Regions from separate parts of the Homo sapiens genome. Here regions 2 and 3 are each linked to region 1. The links come from fine-mapping of genetic effects on gene expression. A gene starts in region 1. Each other region holds a variant in brackets. All regions are shown on one strand. Distances are between the middles of the regions.

Region 1 (8,183 bases):
CCAGGAGTTCGACGAGACCAGCATAAGCAACATGGCGAAACCCCATCTCTACAAAAAATACAAAAATTACCCAGGTGTGGTGGTGCATGCCTGTAGTCCCAGCTACTCAGGAGGCTGAGGTGGGAGGATCACCTAAGCCTGGGAGGCAGAGGTTGCAGTGAGCCATGACTGCATCACTGCACTCCACCTGGGGTGACAGAACAAGACCCTGTCTCTTAAAGAAAATGAAAATTAAAAAAATTTTCCAGTCTGGACAGTATGGCGAAACCCTGTCTCCACTAAAAAATACCAAAAAAGTTAGCTGGGCATGGTGGCACATGTCTATAGTCCCAGCTACTCAGGAGGCCAAGGCAGGAAGATCACTTAAGCCTGGGAGGCAGAGGCTGCAGTGAGATCAGGCCACTGCACCCCTGCAGGGGGACAGAGCGAGACCCTGTTGCAAGATAAGAATTTTTTAAAACACTTTAAGCTTTTTTTTCAACAATTTTTGTGAGTGTATAGTAGGTGTATATATTTATTTGGGTATATATTTATATATATTTATATATTATTAGGTGTATATATTTATATATTTATATATATAAATATGTATATTTATTATGGAGTACATGAGATGTTTTGATATAGGCATGCAATGTAAATTAAGCACATCATGGAGCATGGGGTATCTATCCCCTCAAGCATTTATCCTTTGACTTATGGGGTATCCATCCCCTCAGGCATTTATCCTTTGAGTTACAAATAATCCAATTACACTCTGAGTTATTTTAAAATGTACAATTATTATTGACCATAGTCACCCTGTTGTACTATCAAATAGGTCTTATTCATTCTATTTTTTTTGTACCCATTAGCCATCCCCACCTCCCACCTACTTTTCCTTAATACTTACAAAAGGTAAAATGCACCTTCTGACATGGCCGAACTGTGCAAAGTGTTCTTTCAGCTGACCTGTGTGGCAGAAGAAAACATTAAAAGTAGTTACTATATTTTGGATTCTCTATCTTAGACTGTAGAAAGACAGGGTCACCAGATTTCTTGTGGACAGGAACTACTTTGCATTTCCTTAAAGGCTTAAGATTTAGGAAGCAGCTATGGTACTGACTATAAAGCCATAATGTACCAGACTTGGTGGTGAGATGGACAGAGAAGTTGTTGAGTTGGCTGCAGTCTCCATCCTCAGCAAATATCGAGTGTTTTCATACCAGTTACTGTGCTATGTGGACTATGATCCCTGTGAGCAGATCACAATGAAGAAAAAGACAAATTACAATCCAGTGTGTTTCCCGGTATACTGAAGATTTCCAAATAAAATCCCAACTTACTGGTCTTTCACAATTTAGTAAAATGTGTTGAGTTGCCCTCACCTACCCTTCCTGCCTTATTTCCCACTGCTAGCCCCTAGTTACTCTCTAGTACAACTAATTGAATTATCTTTATCTGTCCTGCGGGTTACCCTCTTTGCATATGTTGTTCTCTCCCCTCCATATGTTGGTAATCCTATCTCCCCCTGGCTAACTTGTAACACTATAACTATCCTTCAAGACCCAAACCAAGTACATCCACTGAGTATTACTTTATTGGGCTCCTATCACAGTACAAGACAATGTACCAGCCCTGTGAGACTTCAAAGATTTAGAGTATATAATCTTAAAGACTAAAAACTACACGATCTGTTTCTCTTCTGAACTACAGTGCTTGTACTTCACTGATTTACTTTTTATAATATCTATTTAGTTCTCCTAGTTCACCAAAACCTCACTGGTTCAACAATTGCCTATATTTGTTCTAAGTCTCTTCATCCCCACCACTAATTGTAAGCTCCCTCAGCATATAAACCACTATGTTTACAGTGACCAATAAACAGCAGGGCCTCAATATTGGCTAAATGAATAAGTAAAAGTCCACTAATCCTTCCAACAATCCACAGAGACTAAATTTTGAAGGGCTCTAATGGTTAAGTCAAACCAACTGGCAAGATCAAGGTCTCACAGAATATGATACTGGAGAACAAAATAATGTTAAACATATGTTTTATACCAGATAATTAAAGTCCTAGAAGACACTGATTTCAAAACAAACCAGCTCTGGAAGGTAACCCTCTTCCTAAATTGCCTAAAATGGTGAAGGAAAAACAGCTGCAAGCACCAAGAACAATGCCTACCACAGAATAGATACTCAAATAAATATTTGCTGAATCAATGGAACAACAAAGAGAAACTGTTTCGAAGCTGTACATAATGCTGACTCTTTTTAAGGGTTTTAAACTAGCCCTTTATTGTCTGGAAACTTGCATCCGCAAGATGCTAATGAAACTCCTCAGCCTTTCCATAAAGTTTCACAGGGACTACGGGAGACTTTACTGGGCTTGGTCTTCACCAACCACATGTTTAAAACACGGGGCACAAACCAACCTATTTCCCATTCTACTACTCACATCTGAGCCACTAAAAACTTAGAAGAAACTAAATCTTGCTCCATTTTGTTTCCAGGGGTTGACCTGAAACATGAATATCTACAAAAAGAGTGACCACGAATGTTTACATGTTGGTAAGCAAATATAAAAACCTCATCTCAAAACTGCAGCTGACAAAAATTGAAGGTGGTGAAAGATTTCAGAACTAATTATTCCAACCTTTATCTGTAGACTAGGCCTCTCCCGTAAGTTTCAATTTTAGTTACCGTGAAAATAACTATCATTTGCTGAGTACTTACACTGTATCTAACACAAGTCTAAGAAGTTTGCATATAAACTCAATCCTCTCAACAATCCTATGAGTTGGGTATTATTGACTCCATTTTATCGATGAGTAAACTGAGGCCCAGTTGTGAGCCCTTTTCCCATACTAACTTCAGTTATTCAAGTGATAACAACGATTAAATGGCCAAGTTGGAATTCTAACCCCAACGGTCTAGCTTCGGAGTCCACTTCTCAGCCACAATGATATACAACCTTTGTCCAATTGCCTGACGGAAACCTCACAAGTTTCTCAAAGTCAACACATTCAAACTTTACTCATCTTCTCTTGGCCTGCTCCTAACTTCTAAACAAACAATTCACCAATGCTAAAAACCCAGAAATCATTTCTCCCTTTCCTTTATTCCGTACACTTCTCCCACTTAAGCCATCACGAAACGGCATCTAATTTGCTTTTAAAACATTAATGCATCTGACCACCATCCTTCTACCATCGCCCTAATTCAGGTCCTCACGTTTTAAGTAAATTAATGAAATTGCCTTTTAGCTCCTCTGCACGCCTACAATCTTGCCACCTTGAATCCATCCTCCACACTACAGTCAAAATTATCCCTTCTAAATTGTAAATCTTGGTTACCAAGTAATAAATCTTTACACCAAATCACTCCTAAAGGCAAGAGCCGGTGCATTCGTGACCCCAAAAGCTCAAGGGACATCCCTAAACGGTTAACTGCAAACAAAATTTCTTTCTGCTCACTTGCATGCTCAGGAGCAGTCTCCTAATTCAGCCACCACGCTGACTTAAGTACCCTGCAAAAAGCAGAAGCTTTGAGGATCACTTGGACCTAAAAATTCCACTACTCCCACATCTCCATCACTCACTCGACGCCGCAGTCCAAGGAATTCTTCTCACAAAAGCAACCGGCTGATTGATACTTCTACGCAGCGCCGCAGCACCTCTCGCTGCTGAGGCCGCCATCTTCAGACTAAAGCACCTTCTCGAGCCGAGGTCGCGGCCCCGGAAAAAATTTCCGGATCCGGAACACGAGAGAATCTGCTTCCGGATCAGAGGGTATAGGCCGCGAGATGGGGAAGATGGCAGCGGCCGTGGGCTCTGTGGCGACTCTGGCGACTGAGCCCGGGGAGGACGCCTTTCGGAAACTTTTCCGCTTCTACCGTCAGAGCCGGCCCGGGACCGCAGACCTGGAAGGGGTCATCGACTTCTCGGCGGCCCACGCAGCCCGTGGCAAGGGTCCTGGTGCCCAAAAGGTACAGAGAGAGGAGTGGCGCGCGTCTCTCCATCGCTTTGCCCCGCGTCTTGGAGGGACTTACGTGTCTTCTTCGCCTCTTTTCACCTCCAGACCGATTGTTATTGAACGATTCCTGACCTCCTTTGGCTGCAGAGTCGAACTCCCCACTAACCGTCACACTTAGCAATAAAGCGTTGAGATGCCTGTTTCTTTAGGCGGCCATTCCTGGCGGGGGCGCTCAGTCAAAAGAGCCTGGGAATCCGTGTTTATTTCTTACTGTAACTGTCTCCTCACATTTCTGTTTGGGTTTTTGTAAAACCCCATAGAACGTCTTTGTAGACGGTAGGGTAGACTTCTGCAGCTTAAAAAAAACCACTCCCGAGGAATCCCAGAACTGACAGGGATGCGGCGCTGTTTGTTAAGCCACTGTGCGTAAAACTAGTCCCTGTCTTCTCCTCTGGCTCTTTTAGAAGGAGGTCATTGAAGGATTCTGAGAATCCCTCCGTGTTGAAAATAAATGGCAAACAAGTATATATGGAATACAGGCACCGTTCTCTCTCTCAGCTTTTCCCCATGGAGATTAAGAAGGGGAACACAGTCCGGGAGCGGTGGCTCAAGCCTGTAATCCCGCACTTCGGAGGCCGAGGCGGGTGGATCGCTTGAACCCAGGGGTTCGAGACCAGCCTGGGGCATGGCAAGACCCCCGTTTCCGCCAAAAATACAAAAAATTAGCCAGTCTCATAACCTGTTCTCAAGTAAATAGATTTTTTAAAAATTATTTTTTTAAGGGAACATAACAGGCAAGAGGGAAAACGGGGAACCAAAACTGTAGTCCAATTTATATTTTCTTTCTTTACAATCCACTTTAACGTTGAGGATATGCAGTCCCTTAATTTGCTCTTGGTGTTGTCCACAGATGTCTAGATGAGGCATTCTTTCCAAGCTTCCTAACAGCTCTGATAAAATTGGGATGCTACAGTATTAAGTGTTAATGATTGCATACTTGAGCTCAGCTTTTCAGCACCTTCATTTGTTAGGGAAAAAAAGTGGTCTTAGAGTTGTCAAAATACAGAAAGTCCACACCCCAATAATAATATACTTTTTCTCTCCAGAGCGCTTCAGACTCTCATTCAGCTCCTTTTACCTACATTTTACCATAATATGTACATGCTTTTTAGAATGTCAGCCATCAGGGAATGAGCCATTATGTGTCTAGTACAGGACCTAAAACAGTACTAAGTACAGTATGTGTTGAGTACATGAAAGCTTGGGTGTTTAGTTCCTCAGCTCAAAGCAGATTAAAGTAGTAATTAAGAGAAGTTACTATTACAAGCCAGCTGATGAGACTGGTGGGGAAAGTGGTGGTTAACAGTCTGGCAAGGGAGGAAAGAGAAAACCTTTTATAAAAGCTCAGTGGTGTCGTTCAGTTTAGCATATGATAGAATAGGTCCACTAACATCACCTCTGAGAGTGTGTTGAATTATAGTGCAGTATTAAGTATGGCCTATTAAAGAAATCATGACAAAATGCTTAAAAGTGTTTTACCAGTGCCTAGGTACCTGGAAAACTCAGCTGATAGTACTGTCAGAGGGTTTCATATAGCCCTTTTATTATAGAGACTGGTTATACATCAGCAAACTTTTGGTATTTTGTCCAGGAATCTCCACACTTGGAGAAGTTGATAAGATAAAAGATCATTCTCTTTCAAAGAGAATGTTTCATATATATATATATGTGTGTGTGTATATATGTGTGTGTATATATAATATATATACTTTTTTTTACTGAGACAGCGTCTCACTGTGTCACCCAGGCTGAAGTGCAGTGGCGTGATCTTGGCTCACTGCAACCTCCATCTCCTAGGTTCAAATGATTCTTCTGCTTCAGCCTCCCAAGTAGCTGGGACTACAGGCACGCGCCACCATGCCTGGCTAATTTTTGTATTTTTAGTAGAGACGGGGTTTCGCCATGTTGGCCAGTCTGGACCCAAACTCCTGACCTCAGGTGATCTACCTGCCTTGGCTTCCCAAAGTGTTGGAATTACAGGTGTGAGCCACCGCTCGGCCTGTTTCATATATTTTAAGGCAAGGCAGACCCTAGGTTTACTATTCAGGGAAGAATAAAGGTTTTTTCCTTTAATGTTTTGACTTCAATGACTGCATAGTGGGTCTCTTAACCAATGTAATGAGCCATCCATTAGATACTCACATACAAAGAAAACTTCAGCCCCTGAAATACTAAATTCATTTCTAAGTAATTAACAGAAGCAGAAGTTGTAGCGTCAGTTGGACATTTCATCTAGAAGAGGGCAAACAGGATTTTTTAGCTTTTACTTTTAGCAGACAGGATTCCCAGTGTCTCACTGCAACATTTTTTCTGTCTGTTTACAGCACTCTCTTTTCATTCTCTTTTTTTTTTTTTTTTTTTTTCTTAGACGGAGTCTTGCTCTGTTCCTAGGCTGGAGTACAGTGGCACAATCTCAGCTCACTGCAACTTTCACCTCCCAGGTTGAAGCAATTCTGGTGCCCCAGCCTCTCGTAGCTGGGATTTCAGGCGCCCGCCACTACACCCAACTAATTTTTGTATTTTTAGTAGAGACGGGGTTTCACCATGTTGGCCAGGTTGGTCTCGGACTCCTGACCTCGTGATCCGCCTGCCTCAGCCTCCCAAAGTGCTGGGATTACAGGCGTGAGCCACTGCGACCGGCCTTCTCTTTTCATTTTCTCACCCTGTCCAGCTTGGTGTTCCTTATAGCTCTGTTTAAATACCAACTCTATACAAGTGTCTCAAAAGCATTACTGTTAGCCCTAACTGAAGTAAATAGCTTTGTGACTCAAGATATTTCAGTACACCAAGCACCTTTCATGATTCAGCCCCATAAGAAGTTGGAAAGGTATGATGTCATAGGAAAAAGTAGTTTTGAAAGCCAAAATTAGCCTGCTTAAGTTTTCTTATTACCATTTTGCCTTAATTTTGGGTGACTCTACTGTTACTATATAGATGAGAAACTGAGGCTCTAAGACATTAAATGACTCATCTAAAATGCCCAGATCAAGTAAGCAGTACAGCTAAGATTAACCCCAGAGTTAATACTCCTTGCTTTGGCCAGGCACAGTGGCATATACCTCTAATCCCATTGCTTTGGGAGGCCAACACAGGAGGATCACTTGAGTTCAGGAGCTTGAGGCTGCAGTGAACTATGATCATGCCTCTGCACTCGCCTGAGCAATAGAGCAAGGTTCTGTATCTTAAACAAGAATCCTAGCTTTGCCTCATACAAGAAATGTGTTTGGAGGTTTGAGGTTCCCGGGGTTGACCTGCAAAATAGATTTAGTCCTTTAACTTCTGTTTCCTTCCTGCCAGGTGATCAAATCTCAGCTAAATGTGTCTTCTGTCAGTGAGCAGAATGCATATAGAGCAGGTCTTCAGCCCGTCAGCAAGTGGCAAGCCTATGGACTCAAAGGCTATCCTGGTGAGTGTAACTGACCTCAGAGAAGGCAATATCACTCAATCATTTATGTCTTCATGTCTTCAAAGAAGGTACTGTGTGTGAGCAAGTAAATAGACAAAGGATACACATAATAAACAGATAAATGTTTCATTTCCAAACCCATTCTAGACTGTACCTTGTCTAAGACGTCCGTTTTGAAAGGATAGAACAGGAGTCAGCAGTGCCTGCAAATGTGGCTGAAAGTGGCATGACCATTGAAAAAATAAGGACATTGCCTCTGGGCTCCCTGCCACAACTCTGAACATCTGATTTGGCAGAAGTGCTGTGAAGAATAATTTATCATTATCATTGTAATAAATGTCATAATAGTTATGAATAATTCATAATTGTCCCTCTAGTCACATTCTCAAATGGCATAACAACTTAAAACTTGTTGCTATCAAGGCTGAACATATTTAATAAAGAATTACAATTAATGACATCAAAAGTCCTCGCCAGGCGTGGTGGCTCATGCCTGTAATCCCAGAACTTTGAGATGCCAAGGTGGGTGGATCACCTGAGGTCAGGAGGTCAAGACGAGCCTGGCCAACATGGTGAAATCCCGTCTCTACTAAAAATACAAAAATTAGCTGGGCATGGTGGTGCGTGCCTGTAATCCCAGCTACTTGGGAGGCTGAGACAGGAGAATCGCTTGAACCCAGGAGGTGGAGGTTTCAGTGAGCCAAGATCGCGCCATTGCACTCCAGCCTAGGCAATAAGGGGGAAACTCTGTCTCAAAAAAAAA
Region 2 (8,183 bases), 48 kb after region 1:
TTCTGGCTATGGAAGATTTTTCTCTGTCTTTGAAGACAGTGATGCTATGTCTGTGTTATTAACCAACTCTTTTTGCCTTTGGAAGGTCACGTAGTGTAAGAATTGCCTAAGGGAGTGAAATAAACATCAGTATTGCTGCTGTCAGTTAGGTGTCAAGCCCTTGTTATTCATCCAGCAACTACTGAGCATCTGTGAAGTGAGTCACTGTGTTAGGTGAATGTAACAGGCATTGTTTCTGCCCTCGGGTCCTTCCATGAGTGGGAAAAACACCTACGTAAGTAGGGTTGCCATAAAAGTATGCTCCCATGGGCCAAGTACAAGGTGTAGTGGGAGGGGCATTTAACCTAGAAATGGCAATGACAGGCTTCCTGTAGGAAGTGACATAAAAGCGGACGAAGAAGGAGCTAGACTTAGCTTCACTACCCTCCTATTTGGCTTAAGGCCGTTTATTATCTCCTCTATTGTTTCATTGGTCTTGTGGGAATAAGAGCATCTGGAAAATCTTGAAGACCTTTTTAGCCTTAATAGTTTATGATTCTGTATGACTCACATGATAAAAATCATTTATTTTGTTCATAGCCCTTAGCACTATCTGCTATTATATCTTTTTTTACTCTTTATTATTTGTGTCCTCCAAAGAAAAGCAGGCTTTTTTCTTTTTTTTTTCTGTCTTGTTCTGGGCTATTTCCCTGACACCTAGAATTGTTCTTGGTACATAGTAGCTGCTCAATTAAATATTGTTGAATGAAGAACATTTTATCATACTGTTAATGTGTTGTTGTATATCACAGAAGTCCTTTGCAAATAGTTGGCTGGAGAAGGGGGACAGCATCTTTTTAAGCATTTACACATATGCAAGCAGTCTTTTTTCTAGGAATTCACTGTTTATCCTGAGTGGGGATGTGGCTCCAAAAGGCACTGCTAGCATCACAAGCCAAACCTAACCCAAATACTCTAATGCCTTAATCAGGGATCATTCCACTACAAGACACAAACCCACTAAATTACAAAAAACAACCAAGGGTAGGAAGTGCAGCCAAGCCTCACTGGGAACTAGAATTGGTAAAAACATCAGGACTCACAGCAGCTGCCATATTCCACTCTCCCCCACTCTCCCTCCCTCTTGGTTTTTTTCTGCCTGTCTGCTTCCTTCTTATTGCAACCCTCTTTGTTAATTTTACTTGCACAGTGATGCCCCTAAATGGCACCTTCAGTCCCCAGTTTTCCAGGTTGCTTGCATATAGATGCCCTAAATCCCGATTGCTCAAAGAAAATCAGCTTGGCATTTTTTGGATTAGTTGTCTACCCCAGATCAGTTACCTGTGGCCCTGATGATACAGAGGACTTAACTCTTCAAAACCAAACAAAGAACAATGGATGGATGGAAAGGAAGTAATTAGTGTGGGGAAAAGAAAGAGAGATCAGATTGTTACTGTGTCTGTGTAGAAAGAAGTAGACGTAGGAGACTCCATTTTGTTCTGTACTAAGACAAATTCTTCTGCCTTGAGACTCTGTTAATCTATGACCTTACCCCCAACCCCGTGCTCTCTGAAACATGTGCTGTGTCAACTCAGGGTTAAATGGATTAAGGGCTGTGCAAGATGTGCTTTGTTAAACAGATGCTTGAAGGCAGCATGCTCCTTAAGAGTCATCACCAATCCCTAATCTCAAGTACCCAGGGACACAAACACTGCGGAAGGCCGCAGGGACCTCTGCCTAGGAAAGCCAGGTATTGTCCAAGGTTTCTCCCCATGTGATAGTCTGAAATATGGCCTCGTGGGAAGGGAAAGACCTGACCGTCCCCCAGCCCGACACCCGTAAAGGGTCTGTGCTGAGGAGGATTAGTATAAGAGGAAGGAATGCCACTTTGCAGTTGAGACAAGAGGAAGGCATCTGTCTCCTGCTCGTCCCTGGGCAATGGAATGTCTCGGTATAAAACCCGATTGTATGTTCCATCTACTGAGATAGAGGAAAAACCGCCTTAGGGCTGGAGGTGGGACATGCGGGCAACAATACTGCTCTGTAAGGCATTGAGATGTTTATGTGTATGCATACCTAAAGCACAGCACTTAATTCTTTACCTTGTCTATGATGCAGAGACCTTGTTCACGTGTTTATCTGCTGACCTTCTCTCCACTATTATCCTATGACCCTGTCACCTCCCCCTCTCCGAGAAACACCCAAGAATGATCAATAAATACTAAGGGAACTCAGAGGCTGGCGGGATCCTCCCTATGCTGAACGCCGGTCCCCTGGGCCCCCTTTTTTCTTTCTCTATACTTCGTCTCTGTGTCTCTTTCTTTTCCAAGTCTTTCGTTCCACCTAACGAGAAACACCCACAGGTGTGGAGGGGCAACCCACCCCTTCATCTAGTGGAAGAAATTACTGGCAACTCTAATGGTGTTATTATACACATTTTACTTCTGGAATGAAGTGCTAGGTGACTGGACCAGGAGATGATAAAAGTAGAGTGTGTCGGTGGCTCTCTCCAGCCCCCTTCACCAGACACTACTCCCAGGCACCCCCCCCCAACAAACAAAATTCACCCGTGCCCCCTGTGCCATCTCCCCTGCTTATCGCCTCTTGGGCTTTGTCGAAAGGTTGGAGACAACGGTGAGGCATCTGGTGCTCCCACGGTCCCATTGCTTTGGAGACCAGAGGCAATTGAGGTGCTTTCAGCCGGAAAAATATAATTTAAGGGCTTGGCATCTGGCTGGGAGCAGAGAGCTATGTTGCCATGGTAATGCCTCGCTTCATTTAACAGCAACATATCCCCAAGTTTGGTCACATCCACACTCAGGCACATACAGCACCCCGTCAGCAGCCCCCGTGACGTGCCCACACTCACCTCTGGCAGAAATCCCTCTGCAAGATGCAAAGCCCATTCCCTGCACCCTCCTCTCATCATAGACACCCACACTCCCCCATATCCTTTCCTACAACACCTCGGCCAATTAGGTAGATTCCAAAAACACCTCCAGACAGCACAGAACACTCCAGGGAATTTTGTTTTGTTTCGTTTTGTTTTTGAGACGGAGTTTCACTCTTGTTGCCCAGGCTGGAGTGCAATGGTGCGATCTCGGCTCACCACAACCTCCGCCTCCTGGGTTCAAGCGATTCTCCTGCCTCAGCCTCCCAAGTAGCTGGGATTACAGGCACCTGCAACCACGCCTGGCTAATTTTTTTGTATTTTTTAGTAGAAACGGAGTTTCACCATGTTGGCCAGGCTAGTCTTGAACTCCTGACCTCAGGCAATCCACCCACCTCAGCCTTCCAAAGTGCTGGGATTACAGGTGTGAGCCACCACGCCTGGCCACTCCAGGGAATTTTGAGTGCTCTGTGAGTGCAGACCCTCTTAAATAGGCCCACACCACGAAGGCTGCTGGGGTCCCTGTGCTTCTTCAGCATCCCTAATATGCAACTGTAGCTCCGTCTTCCTTTACAAATCTTTGTGTGTCATCTCCAATCCTTTAATCATGCCCAAGAGGATGGTAATGAGGGAGAGGAGCAGTGGTGGCCAGCGGTGCACAAATCTCTGTTTTCTTGAGAGCAGAGGTTAGCCTCTAGGGGTCAGGTACAAGGACCAAATCCCTGCAGTAATTATCCAGAAGCCCCCAAGTGCCTACTGATATTCTGTTTCTGCCCCTCCCTTAACCCAGGCAGTGGTAAACAGGATGGATCAGAGAAGAGAAACTTGAAAGCACAAGATCATTTATTGCAACACTGTTTATAGTAGTGAAAAAATAGAAATTGCCTAAATGTCCGTTAACAGGAACTAGCTAAATACACTGTGGCTCATCTGTATAATGATGGACTCTATGGGGTTTAAAAGAATTATGCAATCCATGTGTATCATGTGAAAATATGTCAGTATGTAAAGTGTGATCCCACCGATTTTTTTTTTTTCCTGAGATGGAGTCTTGCTGTGTTGCCCAGGCTGGAGTGCAGAGGTGCAGTCTCGGCTCACTGCAACCTCCACTCCCGGGTTCAAGCAATTCTCCTGCCTCAGCCTCCCAAGTAGCTGGGACTACAGGCACACGCCGCCACGCCCAGCTAATTTTTTGTATTTTACTAGAGAC[G/AGG]GTTTCACCATGTTGCCCAGGCTGGTCGTGAACTCCTGAGCTCAGGCAATCCGCCTGCCTCAGCCTCCTAAGATTTTTTTAACTTTAGTATATACACATGGATATTGATAATGTGAAGAAAAAGGTCTGAGAAGGCTGGACACAGTGGCTCACACCTGTAATCCCAACACTTTGGGAGGCCCAGGTGGGAGGATCGCTTGAGCCCAGGAGTTTGAGACCAGCCTGGGCAACATAGCAAGACCCTGTCTCTACAAAATATTATAATAATAATAACAAATTAGCCAGGCATGGTGGCATACACCTGTAGTCCCAGCTACTTGGGAGGCTGAGGTGGGAGGATTGCTTGAGCCTGGGAGGTCGAGTCTGCAGTGAACTATGATCGTGCCACTGCTCTCCAGCCTGGGCAACAGAGAAAGACCCTATCCCCCCAAAAAATTAATTAAATTTAAAAAAAGAAAAAGGTCTAAGAAGAGTGGGATCAACAGAGAGGTGATGGTGACAGTTTCAGTTGTCCTTTGCTGCATGACAAACTTAGAGTCTTAGAACAATAACTTGTTATTTTTCCTGATTCTGTGGGTTGGCTTGGTAGCTCCTCGACTAGGTTCCCCTGAACTCACTGATGCAGCTGCATTCACCTAGTGCTGGCTGCCAGCTGGGCTTCCCCAGGTGCCCACATGGCCTCTCATCACCCAGGAGGCTAGAGTGGCTTCTGTGGTGTCCCAGGACAGCAGTCCAAGACCACCAAAGCAGAAGCAGCAGGAGTCCTGAAGGCCGAGGCTCTAGAACTCAACAATATCATGTCTGTCATGCTCTGCTGTTCAAGGCAAGTCAGAAGTTAGCCCGGTTTCAAGGGATGAGGAAACAGACTGAAACTCTTGGTGACATGCATGGCACAGCTACGTTGCCAAAGGGCCTATGGATTGGGATAGGGAGAATCTGTAGCCATGAAACAAACAACTGTCATGGGCACCTCTCACTTTTTACTCTATGCAATTCTGTACTTTGCGTTCAGGTTTTCCTTGTGTAAATTTGAAGAAAAAAATAAGTGGAAGAGTGAATCTAAGAGAGAAAAGCAAGAATGATGAGGATTTTGTAGACACATAATTTAGATAGAAATATCAAAGATGACCTAAAGGCTACCAGCCTTGAATACTAACTCATAGCAAGCTTTTTGTTTTTCAAATCAACTGTGAAGAAGAGAGGATTGGAATATCCAAGGGTGGAGATGCAACGACATTGACTAGTGATTCAGTGGGTGAGAAGCATGAATTTTAAAGAGCAGCAGAAGAAAGTATAGCTATTTCACTGGATTCCCATTTTACAGGAAATAAATGTAATCAGCCTTTGAAATAGCTATACATATGCAGAAGATGTATATATTATCACCAAGCTATCAAAATGGATGGCAGGTTTTTCATTTTCTGCTGGCTCACTGCCTCTTCTTGCTGGACATTAAGTAAATTCCAGAACCACATTCCCACCCATAAAACAAAAGGATCCTCCCTTAGAAAGTATTTGTTTTGTTTTGTTTTGTTTTTTTAAGTGAAGATTTCACACTCATACAACATTCTTGCAAAGTTGGTTTGTTCCATCCGCATGGATGATTTAACAAAACAATAGCCTCAAAGGCTTGGACAAGGCCGGGCGCGGTGGCTCACGCCTGTAATCCCACCACTTTGGGAGGCCAAGGCGGGCGGATCACCCGAGGTCGGCAGTTCGAGACCAGCCTGACCAACATGGAGAAACCCTGTCTCTACTAAAAATACAAAATTAGCCAGGCATGGTGGCACATGCCTATAATCCCAGCTACTGGGGAGGCTGAGGCAGGAGAATCGCTTGAACCTGGGAGGCGGAGGTTGTGGTGAGCCGAGATCGCACCATTGCACTCCAGCCTGGGCAACAAGAGTGAAACTCCATCTCAAAAAAAAAAAAAAAAAAAAAAAAGGCTTGGACAAAGACGGCCAGGAAAAAAGAAAATGAAACCTTATTCTCAAAATAGCAAGTTCGTTGGAAGCATCATGATTCTCTCTGTGTCCTGAGTCAGGGCCTTGTCTATATGCAGCACCGTGGAAAGCCTCAAGTTAACAGAGAGTTCCCAGGACACAGTAGGGACAGGCAGAAGAATAAGACGATCAGAAAAACACCAGGGATGCAGAAGTCATCTGGTCACTGACCCCACAAGGAAGAAAGATGTCATGGGCAGAGGACAGGACCACTGATGTAAGGAAAGGATATGACGGGGGAACCGTCTTCCTCATTTCTGATGTTTCCTTCCTGCAAAGGAAGCTTAATGAGTGGAACTTCCGGAACTCTCTCTGCCCCACTGCTCCCTCCTCTCCTGGTGGGTGTGGGGGAGGAGCAGTGACTGTTCCCACTGGTTTTTTGGTGGGGAGGGGAGGAAGGTTGTTTGTTTGTTTGTTTGTTTGAGACAGGTTCTTGCTTTGTTGTCCAGGCTGCAGTGCAGTGGCATGATCATGGCTCACTGCAGCCTCCGCCTCCTGGGCTCAAGCAATCCTCCCACCTCAGCCTCCCGAGTAGCTGGGACCACAGGCATGCACCACCACACCCAGCTCATTTTTCTATTTATTGTAGTGATGGGGTTTCACCATGTTGCCCAGGTTGGTCTCGTACTCCTGGGCTCAAGTGATCTGCCCACATCACCCTCCCAAAGTGCTAGGATTACAGGTGTAAGCCACCATGCCCAGCCTGTTCCCACTGTTAATTTTGAGAATACCTGGGTATCTTTGGCTCAGATCCATACTTTTGTCTCTGTTGGGCATGATTCCACCTGTTGAGAAGTTTTCTCCCCTTCTTCATGCTTCTACTCTGCAAGGGGAGGTCTCTGCTCCACCCAGTGTTCCTTGGGTCTGTGTGGGTATCCACCTAAATTCTGGGGTTTGGGATTGTCAGGCTCAATTGGCTTAAGTCACATCCTGCAATTTGGCCTCTTATCACTAATGAAAGTGCTATTTCACCTTCCATATTTACTTTTTGTTTTATTTCTTGGCTGCAAAACCCAGGAAAAAATAAGAGAGTGTCCTCTTGAAGCCTGTATCAGTTGTTTATTGCTGGAAATATGGCCACATTTACTTAAAACGATGAATCTTTATGTTCTCACACAGTGCCTCTGGGAGCAGCTTGCCTGAGTGGTTGGTGAGGCTCAGGGAGGCTCAGGAGGTTACAGGCAGGACGTTGGTCCAGGCCGCAGTTGTCTGAAGCTTGATGCGGCTGGGGCATCGGCTTCCAACCTGGCTGAGGGCAGAAGGCCTCAGTTCCACACACGTGGGCATCTCCACAGAGCTGCTGCATGTCCTCATGACATGGCAAGGGTCTTCCCTGAGCAATGATCCAAGTAAGAAAGAACAGGAAGTTCCAGTGCCTTTTGTGACCTAGTTTCTGCAGTTGCACACCATCACTTTTGCTTTATGTTTTTAGAAGCCAGTCTCTGAGTCTACCCCAGGAGAAGAATTAGGCTCCCCATCTTCAGGAGAGCAGCAAAGAACTTGCAGATCTTTCTTAAAACCACAGAGACCTCGATAAAGGAAAAGTAACTGGGCTCTCATACAAGAAGCTGGTCCAGAGTTGGAGAAAGAGAAGCCATTCCTGCTGGGCGCGGTGGCTCATGCCTGTAATCCCAGCACTTTGAGAGGCCGAGGCAAGCAGATCACCTGAGGTCAGGAGTTCGAGACCAGCCTAACCAACATGGAGAAACCCCATCTCTACTAAAAATACAAAATTAGCCGGGCATGGTGATGCATGCCTGTAATCCCAGCTACTCGGGAGGCTGAGACAGGAGAATCACTTGATCCTGGGAGGCGGAGGTTGCGGTGAGCTAAGATCGCACCATTGCACTCCAGCCTGGGAAACAACAGCAAAACTCTGTCTCCAAAAAAAAAAAGCCATTCCTTCAAACAGCTCTTACTGAAAACCCGCTAACTGCTCGGCTTTGTGCGGGATGTAGCCTGTGAAGGCAGAAATACTACAAGATTCTTTTGCTCGAGGTCTGAGTGAGAGAACACATCCTTAAGAGACGCTCTCCTTTGCTCTAGCCCTCCCTATCAGCCCAAGGGAAGTGCCTGCCCAGAGACCTTGGCCTCCTTGCGC
Region 3 (8,183 bases), 24 kb after region 1:
AGGCCAAGAGGAAAAAACAAGTTCAGAAGAGGACTTGAAAGTATGAGAAGAAACATTCTATTAATGGAGAAAGGCCTCAGAGGCTGTGTCAGGGAAATAGGATATAGTATAGGTAGAGAATTAGCTTTGGAAGAAAGAAGTAGGACCACTTCTGAAACCAGGAGGATCAGGTGAAAATTTAGAGAAGTTTAGTGGTGTGGGGGAGGAAAGTTGAAATTGTTCACTGGATCATTTGAGCAGGCTTCTGTTTTCTCACTGACATAGAAGGAAATAAGAACAAAACTAAGGACTTGAGATGAATGGTGAAGGTTTAGAACAGAAGACGGTTAGATAAGACTGAATATTTGCAGGATAGCAAGAGGATGTTAGCAGTTACAGTGGCATTGGATGTCCATTTGCAGTGAGTGACTGGGAGTGTCAAGTTGAGAAGGGAGAGAGAAAACTGGAAGCACTCAAACACTGAAAGAATGGGGTGGCCAGGCACAGTGGCTTACGCCTGTAATCCCAGCACTTTGGGAGGCAAAGGCGGGTGGATCACAAGGTCAAGAAATCGAGACCATCCTGGCCAATGTGGTGAAACCCCATCTCTACTAAAAATACAAAAATTAACTGGGCATGGCGGCACACATTTGTAGTCCCAGCTACTTGCGAGGCTGAGGCAGGAGAATCACTTGAACCCAGGAGGCGGAGGTTGCAGTGAGCCGAGATCACGCCACTGCACTCCAGCCTGGCGACAAAACGAGACTCTGTCTCAAAAAAGAAAAAAACAATTGCTAAGAGAAATGCCAACGCTTACATAAGGCGCTTACCCATGACATAAACCAAGCAAACTGCTGTATGAGCACATTCACCAGGGGAGAAGGTGGCCAACCCACCCATCCATCATCCTTCTGCTAGTGCCTGGAGAAGGCAGCAGGGAGCATAGCATGTTTCTTTTTTAGTGAGACCCAATAATTAGGGTCATGTTTGCTTGAACACATTCTTTTGGATAATTGGATAAAGATGTATTAGGTGCCAACGTATTTCCTGCATTCTTCAAGGTGAGAGTTGTATTGGTACTGATCCTTCTTGACCTCCTTTTGGACAAGTCAGGTTTAAAAAGAGAACAACCCACCCCCTTCAGTGATTCTCTCAGTATTTTATGCTTAAAAATGATCCGGAAGCATGTTAAATGGTTTTGGTCTTACTATTCACAGTGTTCAAGAACAAATCTTGGAATTTTTGTTACTCAGGAGGCCCATGATTAACCAGAAGGGTCCTTAAATAGTACTAAGACAAGAAATGTTTGGTGCTGGCCAGTCCTGCTCTCAACATATTGAAGGCAGATATTAAGAGTTGTTGCTACTTTCCTTTCAGAAAATACAAAGGCAAGAATTGAAATCAGGTTTTCAGAAGAGAATATAAAATGAGGGTCTAATGCACTTACATGGGTCTAATACGTTACAAAAATATATATGTCATTGCCCCCAAAATGGCATAGACACTCAAAGATCACAATTTTTCTTTTTGTTATGAGGACTGAACTTAATGCTTTTCAATGTAAGACTCGACTCTGGCTTGTTTTACATCCCTGGACCAGTCATCCTCTATAATATAACGCAAAAACTCAAAGCCTTTTTTTCCCCCCCGAGACAGGGTCTCACTCTATTGCCCAGGCTGGAGTGCAGTGGCACAATCTTGGTCTACTGCAACCTTCTCCTCCCAGGCTCCTGCCTCAGCCTCCCGAGTAGCTGGGACTACAGGCGTGCACCACCATGCCTGGCTAATTTTTTGTATTTTTAGTAGAGACGAGGTTTCACCATGTTGCCCAGGCTGGTTCTCCAACTTCTGAGCTAAGGCAATCTGCCCACCTCGGCCTCCCGAAGTGCTAGGATTACAAGCGTGAGCCACCACGCCCAGCTCAAAGCCTTTCTTTTAATCATACAGTTAGAGTCCTTGTTTTTTTTTGTGTTTTTTTTTAAGACGGAGTCTCACTCTGTCGCCCAGGCTGGAGTGCAGTGGCATGATCTTGGCCCACTGCAACCTTCTGGGTTCAAGCGATTCTTGTACCTCAGCTTCCTGAGTAGCTGGAATTACAGGCACCCACCACCATGCCTGGCTAGTTTTTGGTTTTTTAGTAGAGACAGTGTTCCACCATGTTGGCCAGGCTGGTCTTGAACTCCTAGCCTTAAGAGATCCGCCCATCTCAGCCTCCCAAAGTGCTGGGATTGCAGGCGTGAGCCACCGCTCCCAGTGAGAGATGTTATTTTGGCTTCTTAGGAAAGGAACTAAATTAGAAAAGGTATATTACAGGATGATTCTATTCATGCTGTCACTATAATTTTGATAATTTTTATTGTTAATAACATAAACCTGTGTTTATAAAATGTATTCTCTGTTCTTGAATATTAGACTAAATCTTTTGGTGGAAAAGCAGTTTGTTGCGGCCATATCAAATGTCTAAAATACTGTCACCTTTTGAATTATTTCCAAAGCAGCATTATTGTTATGTTTATTGTTTCAGATCAGTCTGACATTGATATAATAGTATGGATTCTTCATAAAATGAGGCTGGGCATGGTGGCTCATGTCTGTAGTACCGATACTTTGGGAGGCCAACGCAGAAGGATTGATTGAAGCTAGAAGTTCAAGACCCACCTGGGCAACATAGAGAGACCCCGTCTCTACAAAAAAATTAAAAATTAGCCAGGCATGGTAGCACACACCTGTAGTTCTAGCTACTCAAGAGGCTGAGGTGGGGAGGATTACTTGAGCCTGCAGCAAGCTGTGACTGTTAGGAGGCTGAGGCAGGTGGATCACCTGAGGTCCAGAATTCGAAACCAGCCTGGCCAACATGGTGAAACCTCATCTCTACTAAAAATACAAAATTAGCCGGGCGTGGTGGTGCATGCCTGTAATCCAAGCTCCTTGGGAGGCTGAGGCAGGAGAATCACATGAACCTGGGAGGCGGAGGTTGCAGTGAGCCAAGATCGCACCATTGCACTCCAGCTTGGGCAACAAAAGCAAAACTCCGTCTAAAAAAAAAAAGAAAAAGAATAAAGCAATCTGTTATTGAGCTAGAAAGAAACAGACGGTATTGTGTTTTGTTTTTTAGTTTGGGCTAGAATAGTGGTTTTCAAAGTGTAATTCCTGGACCAGCAGCATAAGTATCATTTGGGAACTTACTAGAAATGCAGTTCTTAGGCCCCCACCCTAGACCTGCTGAATAAGAATTTATAGGCCTGGACCCAGCCATGTGAGTTTCAACAAGCCTTCTAGATGATTCTGATGTACACTAAAGTTTGAGAAACACTCGGCAAAAATTAAGTGGGTTCTGTAATTAAGACAGGTTCTGTAAAGGCTTTCAGTAGAGCTCTTAAGACTGCGCTTTTCAGCTGGAACTGCCATCTTCCAGTAATTTGCGAAAATGACGAAGACAAAGGGAAAGAGGAGAAGTACCTGATAGATGTTTTCTAGGCCTTTTAGAAAACGGAGTTTTTCCTTTGGCCATGTATATGCGCATCTGTAAGAGGGATGATATTGTCAGCTGGACGCAGTGGCACATGCCTGTAATCCCAGCACTTTGGGAGGCTGAGGCGTTTGGATCACCTGAGGTCAGCAGTTCAAGACCAGCTTGGGCAACATGGGGAAACCCTGTCTCTACTAAAAATACAAAAATTAGCCAGGCGTGGTGGTGCATGCCTGTAATTCTAGCTACTTGGGAGGCTGAGGCAGGAGAATCGCTGGAACTTGGGAGGTGGAGGCTGCGGTGAGCCGAGATTGCACCACTGCACTCCAGCCTAGGTGACAGAGCAAGACTGCATCTCAAAAAAAAAGGAGGATGATGTTGTCGACATTAAGGGAATGGGAATGGGTACTGTTCAAAAAGGAATGGCCCATAAATGTTGCCATGGCAAAACTGGAAGAGTCTACAGTGTTCCCCAGCATGCTGTTAGCATTGTTGTGAACAAGTAAGTTAAGGGCAAGACTCTTGCCAAGAGAATTAATGTGCGCATTGAGCACATTAAGCACTCTAAGAGCCGAGATAGCTTCCTGAAACGTGTAGTAAAATGATCAGAAAAAGAACCCAAAGAGAAAGGTACCTGAGTTCAACTGAAGTGCCAGCCTGCCCCACCC[A/G]GAGAAGCACACTTTGTGAGAACAAATGGGAAGGAGCCTGAGCTGCTGGAACCTATTCTCTATGGATTCATAGCATAATAGGTGTTAAAATACCCCTGGACTGTTTGTAAAAAAAAAAAAAAAAAAAAAAGACTTTACAGCTTGGTGTGATGCCTCACTTAGCACTCTGGGAGGTCAGGGCGGAAGGATTGCTTGAGGTAAGGAGTTCAAGATCATCCTGGACAACATGGTGAGACTACATCTCTATATTTTTCTTTTTTGTTTTAATTAAACAATAAAAATAGGCCAGGTGCAGTGGTTCACGCCTGTAATCCCAGCACTTTGGGAGGCCGAGGCGGGTGGACCACCTGAGGTCAGGAGTTCAAGATGAGTCTAGCCAACATGGTGAAACCCCATCTCTACAAAAAATACAAAAATTAGCCAGGCGTGGTGGTGCATTCTGTAATCACAGCTACTTGGGTGGCTGAGGCAGGAGAATCACTTCAACCTGGGAGGCGGAGGTTGCAGTGAGCCAAGATCGTGCCATTGCCCTCCAGCCTGGGTGACAAAATGAGACACAGTCTCCAAAAAATAAAATTTTTGAGAAGACTCTTTGCCATTTAGATACTCAGGGTGCCATCTATTTTGAGTTCTAGATTCCAGTCTTAGATGACCAACTTCTTTCATCTTTTACTACCACTTCTACCATCTCTCTTTTCCCCCTCCTCAAAAACGCATAGCTTCAATATTCATAAGATCATCATCATCATCCTTTTCTTCAACAGCATTTTCTTGTATCCTAGAGATTACCTTAAAATAAGGAATTGGCTACAAAGTAATACCTTGGAAAGAGAAATAGAATGGATCACCTCTATAAGGTGCTTATGTAACTCTGGAACTACGTTTATATTTCCATTAACCACAAAGTCCACATGAGTCATACTTATTTTTCTGTCTCAGGCTACTAAAATAGAACATGTTCTCTAGAGGAGAACATCAAGGAGTTCTTTTATTTGTACCTTTAGCTGAATAAACATTGGTAGACCTCAAGTTGTGTTAATAACTACATTACATTTTTTTCATATTTCAGTTTTTATGCACAAAAATAATGTGTGGTTGTTATCCATATTGTAATTGTTCAAATCAGCTAGTTGCTGTCAGTGGCCAAGCCTTATATTTTTCCCTAAATTATTAGTTATCTGTCTCCTGTTGTGTCAGGGAGTCCCCAAAACCACACCCAAATTTGATGATTCGCCAGGAAGACTCAGGACTCAGCAGATGGTTGCACTTACAGATTTATCACAGTGAAAGCATACAAAGCAAGATCAGCAAAGGGAAAAGGCACCTGGAGCAAAGTCCAGGAAAAACCAGGTGCATGCCTCCAAAAGTCCTCTCCCAAGGAAGTCACACCGGATATGGCAATGGGTTGTGACAAAATCTGTGAAATGTTTACCAAAGAAACTCAGTGCCTAGGTTTTTACTAGGAGCTTGTCATGTAGGCAGCCTCTGCCTGACACATGCCAAAATCACAGACTCCCAGAAGCAAAGCAGGTGTTGACCATAAACCATATTGTTTGCACAGTTTAGGTGCAGTAAGCCACTCTTAACACTTCCAGAGAATTGTGTGAACCTTGCCAAGGACCATCTTTGTAAGCAGACCATCAGTCAAGTCTGCTATGTCTCTTCTGCACACCTGTCCTAAATAAATCAGTGTGTGTTCATTTCTTTTTATCTGCTGGTCTTGATGTATGTATGTGTCATGATGTCTTTCTTAGAATGTAAACTCTGTGAGGACAGATAGCATCTATTCTGTAAACTCTTCGTCAAACATCAAGATGAGTGCCACTGAACAGTGTGGGTCTCAATAAATCCTTTGCTTTTGCTTGTGCTGTGTGCCCATATTGCCTACTGCATCACTCCCTATTTAAATGCTGCCCATTCTTCAGTGCCGTGCTCAACTCCCAACTCTGCCAAGAAGCCCCAACTGATTCGACAGCTGACTTTGAGCTCTCCTTTTTCTTAATTCTCGTGCCCCTCAAAGTCTGCTGTTTACTTTAGTACTAGACTTTATACTGCGTTCAGTTTCCCTCTAATTTCTCCTTAGACTTTCTATTACATTTGCCATTTCCTGTCACAATCAGATTCCTTAAAGGAATCTGATTTTTTCTTTTTTACACAGCCATAGTTTTGGACAAAAAAATTTTTGATTGATCAATGATGTAAATAACAGAGAAAAATTAAATCATTAGACCTACCATTCTCATATTTTTAGATATTTGGAGGTGAGCCAAACAAACAAGCTTCCTTTTTAGAAAAAGAGTAGTGGGCCAGTTGTGGTGGCTCACGCCTGTAATCCCAGCATTTTGGGAGGCCGAGGCAGGCGGATCACCTGAGGTCAGGAGTTCGAGACCAGCCTCAATATGGAGAAACTCCGTCTCTACTAAAAATACAAAATTAGCTGGGCGTAGTGGTGCATGCCTGTAATCCCAGCTACTTGGGAGGCTGAGGCAGGAGAATTGCTTGAACCTGGGAGGCGGAGGCTGTGGTGAGCCAAGATCGCGCCATTGCACTCCAGCCTGGGCAACAAGAGCGAAACTCTGTCTCAAAAAAAAAAAAAAAAAAAGAGTAGTTAATCACATAGATTTGATCAGATGAGATGTAATTGCAGAAAGAGCACGTCTCGGTTGTACAGAAACCTCCTGTGGTTTGAACAAGGGTATGTCAGAAACCAAATCAGTTACAGTGGTGCCTTAATTGTTAGCTAAGCCTCAGTTATCTAAGCTATGTTATACAGAGTTAAAGAAGTCATGTTAAACCAGTTATTTTTTATTGTACTATACACTATATTTTGCTAAACTTTTTTTTTCCCCAACCTGCAATTCTGGGAAGCCACCCTCATTATAGACATAGAAATCATTGTGATTAACTGTACCCTGCTTTTAGCAAACCAAACTGAAAATGTTCTGTAAGTCAAATTTTTGATTGCCCATAGTGCTCTTGGTACCATTTCCCATGGACAGGTAAAGACATTTCTCTTGTCATTGTTGTCATTCTTATTTTATCATTACCAAGATGCTGGAGGCTTGTGATTTAAAGTTGACCCCATTCAGCAGAGGATTTAGAACAAAGGATTATAAATTAGAAGTGCTAACATGTTTTTCTCTGTTAATGTATCTGTGGTCTACTCATTTATCTCTTCTAATTTCTCCTACTGAGTCTTGGCTAACGGCTTATACCATGTAATACTAAATTTTAACTCCAGAGTCCATACAAACGGCTATTGCTGCCATTTTACATGAATAATTCCTCTTTTGTCACCAATCTTTGCAGGTATAAAGAAGCGACTAAACGGAGACCCCGAAGTTTACTGGAGAAACTGCGTTGGGTGACCGTAGGCTACCATTATAACTGGGACAGTAAGGTATTCAGGTTTTCTTAATTCTTTTGTTTTCTGTTTATAGGCTTCTTTAGCCCACATAGTTGTATTTCTTCCTAACCACGCTTAAGATATCAAGATTATACATTTGTGGGAGGATCCCTTTCTTTTATTTCCTTAAAAAATCTCAACTGGGCCAGGTGCCGTGGCTCACATCTGTAATCCCAGCACTTTGGGAGGCTGAGGTGGGCGGATCACTTAAGGTCAGGAGTTTGCTGCCAGCCTGGGCAACGTGGCACAACCCTGTCTTTACAAAAAATACAAAAGTTTGCCGGGCCTGGTGGCACATGCCTGCAGTCCCAGCTACTCAAGAGGCTGAGGTGAGAGGATTACTTGGACCCAGGAGGTGGAGGTTGCAGTGAGCCAAGATCGCACCACTGCACTCCAGCCTGGGTGACAGAGCAAGACTCTGTCTCAGAAAAGAAAAAAAAAATCTCTCCTCAGGTATCTCAAGAGGAATGAATTTTATTATATCAGAAGTCACCAGTGCTTTCTCACAGTAGGTTCCAGGAATATAGAACTCTTTTCAAGAGCAGTTCTCACCATCTTTATTTCCATTATTAGTGAGAGTTTGTTGAGCATATATTTTTCTTTTTCTTTTTCTTTTTTTTAATTTTTATTGTGCAACAAAAGCCACATTCAAGAGCACTTA

Direction of the effects. Positions count from the first base shown, and alleles are read on the strand shown. Sizes are in standard deviations (SD) of each study's normalised expression. Not every link is listed here.
In carriers of allele AGG in region 2, the expression in thyroid of the gene that starts at base 3,766 in region 1 tends to be higher than with G alone (small effect, 0.36 SD a copy in GTEx).

Evidence for each region. PIP is the estimated chance that this variant, and not a neighbour inherited with it, causes the effect. A credible set is the group of variants that fine-mapping cannot tell apart.
Region 2: its variant is the best candidate, but not a certain one, in a credible set for the expression of ALKBH1 in thyroid (GTEx, PIP 0.74).
Region 3: its variant is the best candidate, but not a certain one, in a credible set for the expression of ALKBH1 in whole blood (TOPMed, PIP 0.58).

What each region holds. Positions count from the first base shown.
Region 1 is chr14:77,703,606-77,711,788 of GRCh38, reverse strand. It overlaps ALKBH1 (alkB homolog 1, histone H2A dioxygenase), which reads left to right and starts at 3,766. Exons shown (of 6, transcript NM_006020.3): 1 at 3,766-3,967; 2 at 7,312-7,420. The coding sequence starts at 3,785. It overlaps SLIRP (SRA stem-loop interacting RNA binding protein), which reads right to left and starts at 3,686. Exons shown (of 4, transcript NM_031210.6): 1 at 3,581-3,686; 2 at 893-951. The coding sequence starts at 3,677. RefSeq lists an enhancer at 3,803-4,132.
Region 2 is chr14:77,655,583-77,663,765 of GRCh38, reverse strand. No RefSeq gene overlaps it. Among named protein-coding and RNA genes, the nearest start is that of SPTLC2, 43 kb to the right of the region's middle. RefSeq lists an enhancer at 447-1,278. The variant G/AGG (reference allele first, on the strand shown) is at 4,080.
Region 3 is chr14:77,679,213-77,687,395 of GRCh38, reverse strand. ALKBH1 (alkB homolog 1, histone H2A dioxygenase) reads left to right here. Exons shown (of 6, transcript NM_006020.3): 4 at 7,426-7,516. It also overlaps the pseudogene RPL21P10. Among named protein-coding and RNA genes, the nearest start is that of ALKBH1, 25 kb to the left of the region's middle. RefSeq lists enhancers at 1,217-1,716, 1,717-2,218 and a silencer at 4,933-5,133. The variant A/G (reference allele first, on the strand shown) is at 4,117.